Linked DNA regions of Homo sapiens: regions 2 and 3 are each reported to be linked to region 1. Evidence: microRNA targets listed by miRTarBase, many of them from high-throughput screens and not tested one by one. Region 1 holds a microRNA gene; each other region holds the end of a gene's coding sequence. Distances are between the middles of the regions.

Region 1 (4,000 bases):
CAACGTGGTGAAACCCCGTCTCTACTAAAAATACATAAATTAGCTGGGCGGTAGTGGCATGTGCCTGTAATCCCAGCTACTCGGGAGGCTGAGAGAGGAGAATCACTTGATTCTCCTGGGAGGCAGAGGTTGTGGTGAGCTGAGATCGTGCCACTGCACTCCTGTCTTGAAAAAAGAAAAAAAAAAGGAAGAACCTCGATGGAGACTAAAAAGAACTGTCCAGAGAGGTAGGAGGAAAACCAAGGGATGGCAGGTATTTCAAAAAGGAGGAAGAGGCTATGGTGACAGACACTGCAGGAGCATGGACAAGGGCACAGAACATCTGTTAGCTTTAACAGCTGGGCCAGGCGCGGGGGCTCACGCCTGTAATCCCCAGCACTTTGGGAGGCCAAGGTGGGTGGATCACCTGAAGTCAGGAGTTTGAGACCAGCCTGGCCAACATGGTGAAATCCCATCTTTACTAAAAAATTAGCCGGGTGTGGTGGTGCGTGCCTGTAATCCCAGCTACTGAGGAGGCTGAGGCAGGAGAATTGCTTGAACCCGGGAGGCAGAGGTTGCAGTGAGCTGAGATCGCACCACTGCACTCTAGCCTGGGTGACAAGTGAAACTCCGTCTCAAAAAAAAAAGTAACAACTGGGAGGTTAGGGTGACCTTACTAAGTAGAGGCATTTTGTGGAGGAGTGAAGGTGGAAGCCAGGGTGCAGTAGGGTGAGGACTGGCTGGGCAGAGAGGAAACTGAGGCAGAAGATGTGGACAGGGACTCTGCAGCGATTCATGGTTGGTCATGGCCGATTGATACGGGCGTGTGCTGAGTGGCAGACTCATAAGTGCTGAGCTGGATTTCTCACCCAGTCCTTGCTTCTCCTGAGAACACCTGCAGGAAGCTGGGAATGAAGGAGAGAAGGCAAGGGTAAGGCCTGGAAGCGAGGCTTCTCTCCTGTCCTGCAGTTTATTCGGTGGGAGAAACTTGAGGTAGAATAAAAACACTGAAGGGATTGGCTGTAAGGGAGCCCAGTGGTCACTGCCCTCCCAGCCCATAGGAGTAGAGATCAGCACTCCTGGGAGCCATGGACTTCTTCCTCTCAATGCGGGCCCTGGGGCGGCAGCCAGCAGTGGTAGGAAAGAGCTCTTAACCACGGTGTTGGGATTTAGGGAACTCAGGGAACTAGGATTACCCTAGTTTTCAGGGTAAGTAAGGAAGCTTGAAGAGCCTGTTCCGGAAGAAAAGCCCAGAAATAGGCTAGGTGTCGACAGAGGTGAGGGAGAAGCAGACGTTCGCCCAGAGATGGCATGGTGGAGCCAGCCCCCTCCACGCTGGCTGCACCCCTGTGGCCTGGGCTGTTGTGGCTTTACCAGCCAAGCCACTTTCTCCCATCCCCATGTTCTCAGTGATTTCCCAAGGCATTTCTGGTGTCCTTTGGGAGTGGAATCACGTGGGTTTTGAAAGGAACTGCGGTGAAAAATAGACCCTGACCTGAGGGCAGGGGCCGATGGGGAGGCCACTGAGCCCTCAGGAGTGTCTGAAAGCTCAGAAGATTCTGGTCTGGGCTCTGCGGGGGGAAGCCCCATAAGGGAGCGCCTCCTGGTCTTTGGTCAGCTTGACAGAGAGGCCCAGGGAAAGTACCTGGGGCTTCCAGAATATACCAAATTCAGAAGCCCACATTCACCCCTGACTGTGCTTGGAGCAAACCTGAAAGTTCACTCCCAAGAGCTTGTTCCAGCCCATTCCTTTATTCTGGAAATAATTCTTGGTATTGAAAGGAAAACTGGGACAAAGGGAGCTTGAGGAAAACGAAAACAAACAAGAAACTGGAGATATGCTATTTAGTCTTAACCCAAACAGATATGCTGTTTGGCCTTAACCCATGTGGAAATTTGTAAACTTTGTCAGGATTTCCCTGTGCATGGTGGTGAAATCATGTAGGGAAAAAAAAATTCACCGTGTAATCTCTTTAGAAGTCACAAAAGAAAAAGAAGGTTATCTTGCTCCCAAAAGGCTGTAAAAAGAATAAGTAAAGTGGCCATAGAGGCCTAGTCTTCTCAGGACAGTGTCCGGGTTGAGAGTCTGTCTCCTGAAGCGCACTCTGGGGAAAATCCCTTCCTGCCCTCCTGCAGGTCCTTAGGGTCCCAGACCCAGACAGTCACTTTCTCAACAGAGTGCCGTCAACTCAGCACACACTCCTCTCTTGAGCACAGAGCCCCAGAGGGAGAAGAACAAATGTGTTGAAAAGAATCTTATTAAGATGTAGTTAATTAAAATGTAATGTATTGAGGGGAATGGAGGTGTCCCAGGTGAGGGCTAAGTCAGGCAGGATTTTTGGGGAAGGCATTGCCGAAATCACCACCTGAGCTCAACACTGGGTGCTTCTGGCCCCTCCAGAGTTGAGGTGCCATCCATGGGAAGTGCAGTCCCCTGCCCTGGCCCAGGTTCAAAGCGCCAAGTAGCCACAACTCAGAATGCCTGCACGTTCCCCTCCTAGCCTTATATCTTCTCTCTGGTTTCCTCCCACGACAGTTTGACTTTGGGGACACCATGGTCCACCAGGCCATCCACACCATCGAGTACTGCCTGGGCTGCATCTCCAACACTGCCTCCTACTTGCGGCTCTGGGCCCTCAGCCTCGCTCATGCGCGTGAGTACCTCTCTCCGGGCTCCGGAACTCTAGTTTCCCCCTCTGTGGGCGCACTGTCAGTTGGGGGGCTTAAGTCAAATGGAAATTACATGAAGGTTCTGGAATTATTCAGGTTCCTGAACCCAAGGAGAATGAGTACAGACAGGAGGCTCAGCACTTGTGCCAGGTTAGCTCTGCATGGTGGTCCCACTAAGGCAGTGGGAAGCCAGGATCCAGGGAACCCTAGAGCAGGGGGATGGCAGAGCAAAATTCATGGCCTACAGCTGCCTCTTGCCAAACTGCACTGGATTTTGTGTCTCCCATTCCCCAGAGCTGTCTGAGGTGCTTTGGACCATGGTGATCCACATCGGCCTGAGCGTGAAGAGCTTGGCGGGAGGTTTGGTGCTGTTCTTCTTCTTCACTGCCTTTGCCACCCTGACCGTGGCCATCCTCCTGATCATGGAGGGCCTCTCGGCCTTTCTCCACGCACTGCGCTTACACTGGTGAGGGGCAGTGGGGCAGGGCGGGCATGGGGGTGGATGTGTCCTTAGCTGCGGTGAGAGGGCAGCTTTTCTCCCACACACAGCCCTGCAGCTCTGTGCAGGAAAGATGAGCTGGCCCTGCACTAGCTTCACCTCAGGACACCCCAGCACCGGCATTGCCACAGAGTTTCGGAAAATGGTCACAGAAAAGCACAGCTCAGCCTTCCCTAGGCTCTAGGGAGATGTCCCTGGTGAGTGGTGTCAGGTCCCGCTCCCTGCCTTTAGCTGTCCCCAGTGCTCCTGATTTTGGCTTAAAGGGGCTGCTGGGGTCTTAGGGTTTCTGGTTTTCTCTCTGATGTGTAACTCTTCTGTCTTCAGAACAGTGGAAGCAGCTCTGGAATGTATGTTAAGTGCAGGAAAGGCTAGAACACGCTGCACCCCAGCTTTATCCTCTTTGTTCTGTCATTGTGCCAGGGGTCTTTGAGTTGGACCCCTGGCAGCTCCATTGTGGACCGGAGGGATTCCTGGCTCTATAGGGTGGAGGTCGGTACACTCACGCAGCTTCTTCACATGGGCAGGTTTGGGGTGGTTCTGTTTGTTTTCTTTAATGAAGCTTGTGACTCTTAATGGCTGTGTGTGGAGAGAGCATGAGTTCAGCCTCTGGGACTGGGAGAGCGGGGGTGTGGTCTGGGCTGTGACCACCTCAAACCAGCGTTGCCAGATGTAGCACATAAAAGTACAGTTTGGCTGGGCACGGTGGCTCATGCCTGTAATCCTAGCACTTTGGGAGGCTAAGGCAGGTGAATCACCTGAGGTCAGGAATTCGAGACCAGCCTGGCCAACATGGTAAAACCCCGTCTCTACTAAATATACAAAAATTAGCCAGGTGTGGTGGCACGTGCCTGT
Region 2 (4,000 bases), not on the chromosome of region 1:
ACTCTGAAGAAAGAGCACCTCATATTCTTTTGCACTCGGGCATGGCCGTCTTACCAGCTGCAGGATGGGGAGGCTTGGCCTCCTGAGGGAAGTGTTAATATTAATACTATTCAACAACTAGATGTTTTCTGCAGACAGGAGGGCAAATGGTCCGAGGTTCCTTATGTGCAAGCCTTCTTTGCCTTGCGAGACAACCCAGATCTTTGTCAGTGTTGTAGAATTGACCCTGCTCTCCTAACAGTTACATCAGGCAAGTCCATAGATGATAATTCCACAAAGTCTGAGAAACAAACCCCTAGGGAACACTCGGATGCAGTTCCGGATGCCCCAATCCTTCCTGTCTCCCCTATCTGGGAACCTCCTCCAGCCACAACATCAACAACTCCAGTTCTATCCTCCCAACCCCCAACTTTACTGTTACCCCTACAGTAAATGCCTGATGGACCTGGTGCCACTAGGGTCCAAGTTCCCTTTTCATTACAGGACCTTGGGCAAATAAGAGGGGACCTGGGCAAGTTCTCTGATGACCTGATAGATATATAGAGGCTTTCCAAAACCTAACTCAGGTGTTTGACCTTACTTGGGGTGATGTTATGTTGCTCTTAAACTCTTAACTACTACAGAGAAACAGGTAGCCCTGCAGGCAGCAGAAAAATTCAGAGATGAACAACATGTCTTCTATAGCCACTCAATAAGGAAAGAAGGTGAGAAACAACCAGCATTCACATACCCAATAGGAAGCGAGGCAGTGCCCCTTGAACAACATAATTCGGACCCCAGTGGTACCTTAGATGAGTGGCAAAGAAAACATTTTCAAATGTGCTTATTAGAGGGCCTACAGAGGACCAGAGCCAAGCCTCTTAATTACCCCAAACTCTCCATGATAGATCAAAAACTAGATGAAAATCCCTCAGCCTTTTTGGAAAGGCTGAGAGAGGCTGTAGTGAAACACACTTCCTTGTCTCCTGTTAGGTATGTTTATACCTCACATAAATAATTCAATTGAGGGACAGCTAATTTTGAAAGACAAGTTTATTACTCAGACAGCCCCTGATATCAGAAGGAAGCTAGAGAAACAGGCCATGGGATTAGATAGCACCTTACAAAACCTCCTGAAGGTAGCCACCTCGGTCTTTTATAATAGGGACCAGGAGGAGGCCCAGGGGAAGGAGAGGAAACACAAGAAAAAGGCAGAGACTCTGGTGGCCACTTTGTATAAAACCCAGTATCCCCAAGGTACACCTGCTAGTTGCTACCAATGTGGCAAACTAGGGCACTTCAAAAGGGACTGCCCAGGCAGCAAGAAGAAGCCACCTCAACCCTGTCCAGTATACAATGGGGACCACTGGAAGGCAGACTGTCCTGGGAAGCATAGGTCACTGAGTCCAGAGCCAGTCTCACAAATGGTCCAGCAGGACTGATGGGTCCTGGGGCTCAACTCCCTGGCTCCAGTGGCTCAGACTGCTGTTACTACCCGGGAGCACCAGGTGATTCTGGAGTTCGAAGGGAGGAAGGTAGACTTCTTTCTGGACACTGGAGCCAGGCTTCTGTTTTCCTCTCCAATTCAGGCCTTCGTTCCTCCCATAGCACAACCATGATGGGCATCTCAGGAAAGACTTTAACTTGATATTTTTCTCAACCTATTAGTTGCAGTCAGAGGGACCTACTGTTTACACAGGCCTTTTTAGTCATGCCTGAAAGTCCCACTCCTTTATTAGATAGAGATATTCCAGCACGTATGGGGGCCACCATCCTTATGGCTCCAGGACAAACTCCGCCTCCCCTTAGTGGAAACCAGTATTAACCCAGAGGTTTGGGCAACTCAGGGAAGAAGTGGCCGGACTATAACCACTATACCAGTCTGGATCCACCTCAAGGATCCCACTTTTTTTCCTAACCAGAGACAATACCCTCTGAAGCCAGAAAGTAGAAAAGGGCTAGACGCCAGCATTGATAACCTAAAGGCACAAGGCCTCCTTAGGCCTTGCAGTAGCCCTTGAAACACCCCAATATTAGGGGTGCAAAAATCCAATGGGGAAGGGAGACTAGTTCAGGACCTCTGCCTTATTCATGAGGCTGTGATTACGATTCATCCAGTAGATCCCAGTCCCTATACTTTGCTAACTCAAATATCCAAGGGAACTAAATGGTTCACAGTTCTGGGCCTAAAGGATGCCTTTTTCTGTATACCTTTATACCCTGACTCCCAATACTTGTTTACCTTTGAAGACCCCTCCAATCAAACCACCCAGTTAACCTGGACTGTACTGCCTCAGGGATTTAGAGATAGCCCCCACCTATTTGGGCAAGTATTGTCAAGAGATCTCTTCGAATTCTTCCATTCTCAGGTTAAAGTTTTACAATATGTAGATGACATTCTCCTCTGTGCCCCAACTGAGGAAGTTTCTTGAGACGGCACTGAGGCTCTCCTTAATTTCCTAGCTGGAAAGGGATATAAGGCTTCAAAATCTAAGGCTCAGCTCTATCAGACTTTGGTAAAGTACCTAGGTCTGGTCTTGTCAGAAGGGAACAAGAGCACTAGGCGAGGAGAGGATTAATCCCATTTCCTCCCTTCCTCTCCCCAGAACCCTCAAGCAGCTGAGGGATGCTTGGGCATTACAGGTTTTTGTAGGTTATAGATACCCAGGTATGATAAAATAGGTTGCCCTTTATATCACCTTATAAAAGAAATTCAAGTGGCTAAAACTCACTTCCTGACCTGGGAACCTGAAGGTCAAAAGGCCATTAATCAGTTAAAACAAGCCTTGCTTAAAGCACCAGCCCCCAGTCTTTCTGTAGGGAAGTCCTTTAATCTTTATGTATCATAAAGGAAAGGAATGACCCTGGGAGTTTTAATTCAAGTTCAAGGCCCAGCTCAACAGCCAGTAGGTTACTTAAGTAGAGAGCTTGACTTGGAGGCTAAAGGATGGCCAGCTTGCCTCTGAGCAGTTACAGTAGTGGCCCTGCTAGTCCCAGAGGCCACCAAGTTAACCCTGGGGAATAACCTGTTTATGCCTCACATAAATAATGTGGCAGGCTTGCTGTCCTCTAAAGCGAGTCTCTGGCTAACAGACAGCTGCCTCCTCAAGTATCAGACTTTGCTGCTAGAGGAATCTGCAGTCCAGTTAAAAACCTGACCTTGCCTGATCCCAGACACTTTCCTCCCAGAGGAAACTGGAGAAACTGAACATAATTGTGAACAGACTGTAGTACAACCTATGCCGCTAGGGAGGATCTCAAAGAAATTCCCCTAGAAAATCCAGACTGGACCCACTTTATGGATGGGAGCTCTTTTGTAGGACAGGGAGTCTGAAAAGTGGGATATGCAGTAGTCACCCTAAATAACATTGAAAATGTGCCTCTCTCACCAGGCACACACACTCAATCAGTTGAGCTGATCCCTCTCACAAGAGCACTTGAACTAAGCAAAGGAAAGACAGCTAACATTTATACTGACTCCAAGTGTACCTTTCTAGTTCTCCTTGCCCATGCTGCCATCTGAAAGGAAAGGCACTTCCTCACCGCTAATGGGTCTTGCATTAAATACCATCAAGACATCAACAGGCTATTATCCTCAGTGTTCCTCCCATGAGAATTAGTGGTCAGACATTGCAGAGGGCATCAGAAGCGGGTAGATGAAATAGCGAAAGGAAACAGGCTAGCAGACCAAAGAGCTAAGTCAGCAGTAAGAAGGCCCCAAGGTCCCAAAACACTTGAGGCCCCTCTGATTTGGGAGGGCTACATAAGGGAAATAAAGCCTCAGTATTCCCCTACAGAGATAGAATGGGCCACCTCTCGAGGTATACTTTTCAACCCTCAGGATGGTTACAATCAGAAGATTGCAAAGTACGCTTGCCAGCCTCCAGCCAATGGAAGATTCTTAAAATCCTCCACTGAGCCTTTCACTTAGGAAAGCATAAGACATCAGTGCATCCAAAGATTGTTCTCAGGAGAAAATCTACTAAAAATGGTCAAATAGGTTGTTAATACTCGTGAAACC
Region 3 (4,000 bases), 1.7 Mb from region 1:
GAGGAGTCAAGGCCAATACTCTGCTTTCTAGGTTGAACGACTAAGTGTTTGGTAATCATTTCGGGTCTTGAGGTATGAGATGTCTGCAAGATATCCCAGGGGATGCAAGGGTGTCTACACAGGTCTGCAGCTTGGAAGAGCAGTCTCTGTCGGCACCACCTTTCGGAATGGTTGCATATGCGTGATAATGGGAGGTTGAAGGGAGAGACATGAACACCTGGGATAAAATGAGGAAGAGCTGACACCAACAGAGTAGACCAAGAAGGCAAAAGACAAGACAAGTGTTCACCAGATGTAATGAACATGTTGGTGACCTTAGCAAGGAACCTCAAAGGATGGTGGTAAGTGGGAGGCCAAGAGGCACAACAAGCTTTTTAGCAGTTTGGCCACTATAGGATAGGGGCAAGGGCTGGGAGAGAGTTCTCCGACAGGACCTGGGTCTGCAGCCCTTTGAGGTTCCAGGAACCCAGCCAAGGCCTGCGCAGGAAAGGGTGTCTTCCCTTAATCTCAGAGAGTGAGTCATCTCAGCCCAGCCCAGCCTGCTTCCCATCAGAGGCCTAGATGGTCCTAGGAAAGTCATCCTTAACCCTTAACCTTTAACCTGGGATGGAGCTGAAGGCTCAAAGTGAGAGCGTGCTCCCTCAACTCCCCACGATAAGCCCTACACTAGGAAGGCTTGCATGCCCAGGGCGAACCCTTGACCCTAGTAGCTCATCACCTCCAATTCCCCAAGACCATGTACTTTGGGTGAAAATGCATTTGTTCTCCAACTTCTCAGAATCTTTAGTGGTCTCACAACCCAAGGTGAACAAATGGAATTGAGAAAAGGGCAAGAACAGTAGCACAGAACAATGTGAAGGTAGGTTGCCTATGGAATCTTTAGGGAAGAGGAAGATAGTTCTAGGAAGAAAAGGCAAATTGGCTTCAAGCATTTTTATAGATCAAACCTGTTGGGTCACCCCTGTGAACCTTCATTGATTCCAGTGACCAGACAGCAGTCAAACCTTTGTTTTTCACTTTATTATACAAAAAAGGGAAAACAAAACTTCCACAGTTGGCTTTAAGCATAGGCAGACACCTCTAAGCCACTCCCTCCCACCTCCCATGATACAAATTCAAGTTGTGGTGGTTGTTGAATCCTACAAAACACTCCTTAAATATTAGAAAAGAAGTTGGGGGTGGGGATGGGGGTCTTCCCACCCCAGCCATCCCATCCCAGTGCCAAAATGCACTCAAGAGTGACCTCTTACAGCACCAACACCCCCACCCTGACAGTCCTGTTTGTACTGTAAGAATTTTTCAATTTTTAAAACAGGAAAGAAAAAGTGCCCCATTCAAAGTTGTTTTTAAATGAAAATACATTCCACTGAAACACAACAGTGTAGGGGCATCCAAATAGGAAACTGGGGTTCTTTGCAGGGCTCTTGGGAAGAAATAGAACCTATAAACCCCTGTACTTAATTCCAGGATTAGGACAAAGGAAGGGGAATGGGAGTGGGGAGTGTCCCCCCCAGGCCTCCCCACCCCCAGCACCAAGGTCCAAGGCAAAGCAGAGACTGTCTGCCTTCCTTTGGGAGAGGGACCCACCAGCCTCTCTGGGACCAGGGCCCTTCACCGTTCTTGCTCCACCTCCGCGGCAGAGTTCCCGCTCTTCCCCCATTCCTTGGCTTTCATTCAGAGGGGGAAGGTGGAAAAGCACCAAGCCCCAATTTAATAGGTCAGTGACATGACCATAAAAAAGAACCCCCCAAATTTAGTCAACAAAAAAATAAGAACTACAGAGATAAGGTGGCTTGGCTTATTAAGAGTCAAGGAATCAAGGTACCAAAAAATACGGGAGATGGCTGGGAAGAGTTAGAGACAGCTGCAGATGCAGCTTTTGCAGACTTCTTGCCCAGCTGTGGGGTTGGGGGAGGAGGGAGCAGACCTGAGAAATTAAAGGAAATAGGGGGTGGTGGGAGGATTCAAGGAAGGCTGGAGGGATGTGTAAGTTAGGAGCTCCCAGCACATTTCTTGAAGCCCAGGTTCTGAGCCTGGGGTGGCCAGGCTTGGCCTCTCAGATGAACAGGGGAGACCTTTTCCATCAAATACAAGCTTTAAGCTTCACACCATCTTGCCTGCCTTTCCGCCTTCCTGCTGGACAATGGAGACCAGCAGCTCGGATGCATGTGACTCTGGCAGAGGGAGCCTGGTCTGGGAAGCATCCGAGAATGGCTTCAGCACACTCCCCCTAATGGAATCAGAGACTGGGCAAAACAGAGGATGTGGAGAACGGGGCAGCCTCAGCCTGCTCCCACCAGGGTCAACATCTCCCGGCCCTCACCGACCCTTTTTCCAGATTCACAACAAACTGATGTGGGCTCTAGGACAGACCCCTTTACACACACACACACACACTCACACTCTTTTGCACACATCCACAGCTGCACCCATGCTATGTACAGGAACACACATACACATACTCTCTTCCACATACATCAAGACCATTTTTAAAAGGTTCCAAATCTACCCCTAAACCCTCCCTCTCCCAGAAATGACAACAGAGACGGCAGCCGAGATCGGTAGGAAACGTCTCGTTGACAGCTCAGAGCTTAAAAAAAAATATATACACATATATAAAAAACACTTCTGCCCCCTCCCCCATGAACGGGTCCAGGCAGCTCCTTCCTGCAGGGGGCAGGGGAGAGGGCCACCAGGGCAGTGCCTGTTTTCTTGAAGGCACCGACCCTCCTCCTCCCCATGTTCCCTGCCTCCAGTTCCAATGCAGGGGTCCAGGTGGCAGGCCCCTCTGGGAAGGAATGGGTCTTCCCCAAGCTTCCACCCCACCTTGGATTGGGCCGCAGGTGTGGAGGGCCTCATCAAACTCTTTGGGACCCCCCACCCCCACTCTCCGGTCCATTGTCCATGCCGGAACCGCAAGTGCAGAAGTGGGTGGGGTGGGCCAGGCTGGTCCGGTGCTGGCTTAGTCTGATAGTTGCTGTCCCTGGAGGAGGACCCCCAAGGGCTGATGTCTCTGAGGCTGCAGAGTCCTGGCCTGGGCTCCTCCAGCCCCCTACCCCCACCGTATTTTTTTTTTTTTTTAAAGAAAGAAAGAAAGTGGGGGAGGCCAGGGGGGCAAGGGACAGAACATGGGGGAGAAACAAAGGTGGTCAGTTGGGGAGGGGAGCTCCTGGGCTCTCCCTGGCTGCCCTGGGGTGGGGCTGAGCCTCAGTTGGAGTCAGAGTCTGAGGAGTCCCCTGAGGAGGAGGAGCTGGAGCTGCTGCCCTCGGACTCATTATCTTCATCCTCATCGTCATCCTCGTCGTCGTCTTCGTCCTCGTCATCCTCTTCATTCTGGGGGGTGAGAAAGGATGTGGAGTCACCAGGTGGCCCTCCTGGCAGGACTCCCCTCCCCTCCCACTGTGCCCTGTCTGCCCCACCTCATCCCCATCCTCGCTCTCGTCCTCGCTGCTGGACTCAGAGGAGTCGCCGCCATCTTCAGAGGAGTCCCCATTCTCATCATCTTCCTCTTCTTCATCCTCGTCCTCGTCATCCTCATCCTCTTCATCATCCTCCTCGGACTCCTTGGAGGGATGGAGGCACATCAGTGGTCTCTGGTCTCTGCCCAACCATTCCAGGCAGTGCCCCCCGCCCCACGCCCCTGCATCTGGGAGGGGCTCCTTACCGACTTGGACTGCAGAGTAGTCCGGCTGGATTTGGGGTTTGGGCCTCGCAGCTTGGTCATGCTCTTACGTTTCTGCAGGATGGGGACACAAAGGTGGCAGCCATGAGTTCGACACCCCTGAATTCCCCCACCCCTACCCCACTGCTGCTCTGCTCCCAGACTCACATTGGAGATGTACTCTTTATATGCTGCACGGTCCTGGGGAGACAGGCTCTGGGGGAGACAGAAGCGGCAAGGGTTGGAACATAGCCAACTACTGCTGACTGAGCATGCTGGCCCAGTGCTAGGCAGTGGGCTGAGCATTTATATATCATCACCCCATCTTACCCCTCCCAG

What was found. Region 1 holds the annotated microRNA hsa-miR-5010-5p (AGGGGGAUGGCAGAGCAAAAUU, at 2,863-2,884, shown strand). A microRNA usually pairs through its seed, bases 2 to 8, with sites in the 3' UTR of a target mRNA and lowers its output. Matches are read on the target gene's strand: a 7mer-m8 pairs with bases 2 to 8, a 7mer-A1 pairs with bases 2 to 7 and ends in A, and an 8mer does both.
Region 2: miRTarBase lists NCR3LG1 as a target of hsa-miR-5010-5p. The part of its 3' UTR that is shown has no 7-base or 8-base seed match.
Region 3: miRTarBase lists UBTF as a target of hsa-miR-5010-5p. Seed matches in the 3' UTR shown: 7mer-A1 at 3,130-3,136, 7mer-A1 at 3,098-3,104 and 7mer-A1 at 1,908-1,914.

The regions. Positions count from the first base shown.
Region 1 is chr17:42,511,346-42,515,345 of GRCh38, forward strand. MIR5010 (microRNA 5010) reads left to right here and starts at 2,843; the gene lies at 2,843-2,962. ATP6V0A1 (ATPase H+ transporting V0 subunit a1) reads left to right here. Exons shown (of 22, transcript NM_001130021.3): 20 at 2,516-2,633; 21 at 2,944-3,115.
Region 2 is chr11:17,372,081-17,376,080 of GRCh38, forward strand. It overlaps NCR3LG1 (natural killer cell cytotoxicity receptor 3 ligand 1), which reads left to right. Exons shown (of 5, transcript NM_001202439.3): 5 at 1-4,000. The coding sequence ends at 432. Among named protein-coding and RNA genes, the nearest start is that of KCNJ11, 15 kb to the right of the region's middle.
Region 3 is chr17:44,204,035-44,208,034 of GRCh38, forward strand. UBTF (upstream binding transcription factor) reads right to left here. Exons shown (of 21, transcript NM_014233.4): 18 at 3,830-3,877; 19 at 3,665-3,736; 20 at 3,420-3,563; 21 at 1,006-3,333. The coding sequence ends at 3,208. The region is part of intron 1 of ATXN7L3-AS1 (ATXN7L3 antisense RNA 1); the gene reads left to right. It overlaps MIR6782 (microRNA 6782), which reads right to left and starts at 3,805; the gene lies at 3,737-3,805. RefSeq lists an enhancer at 2,929-3,429.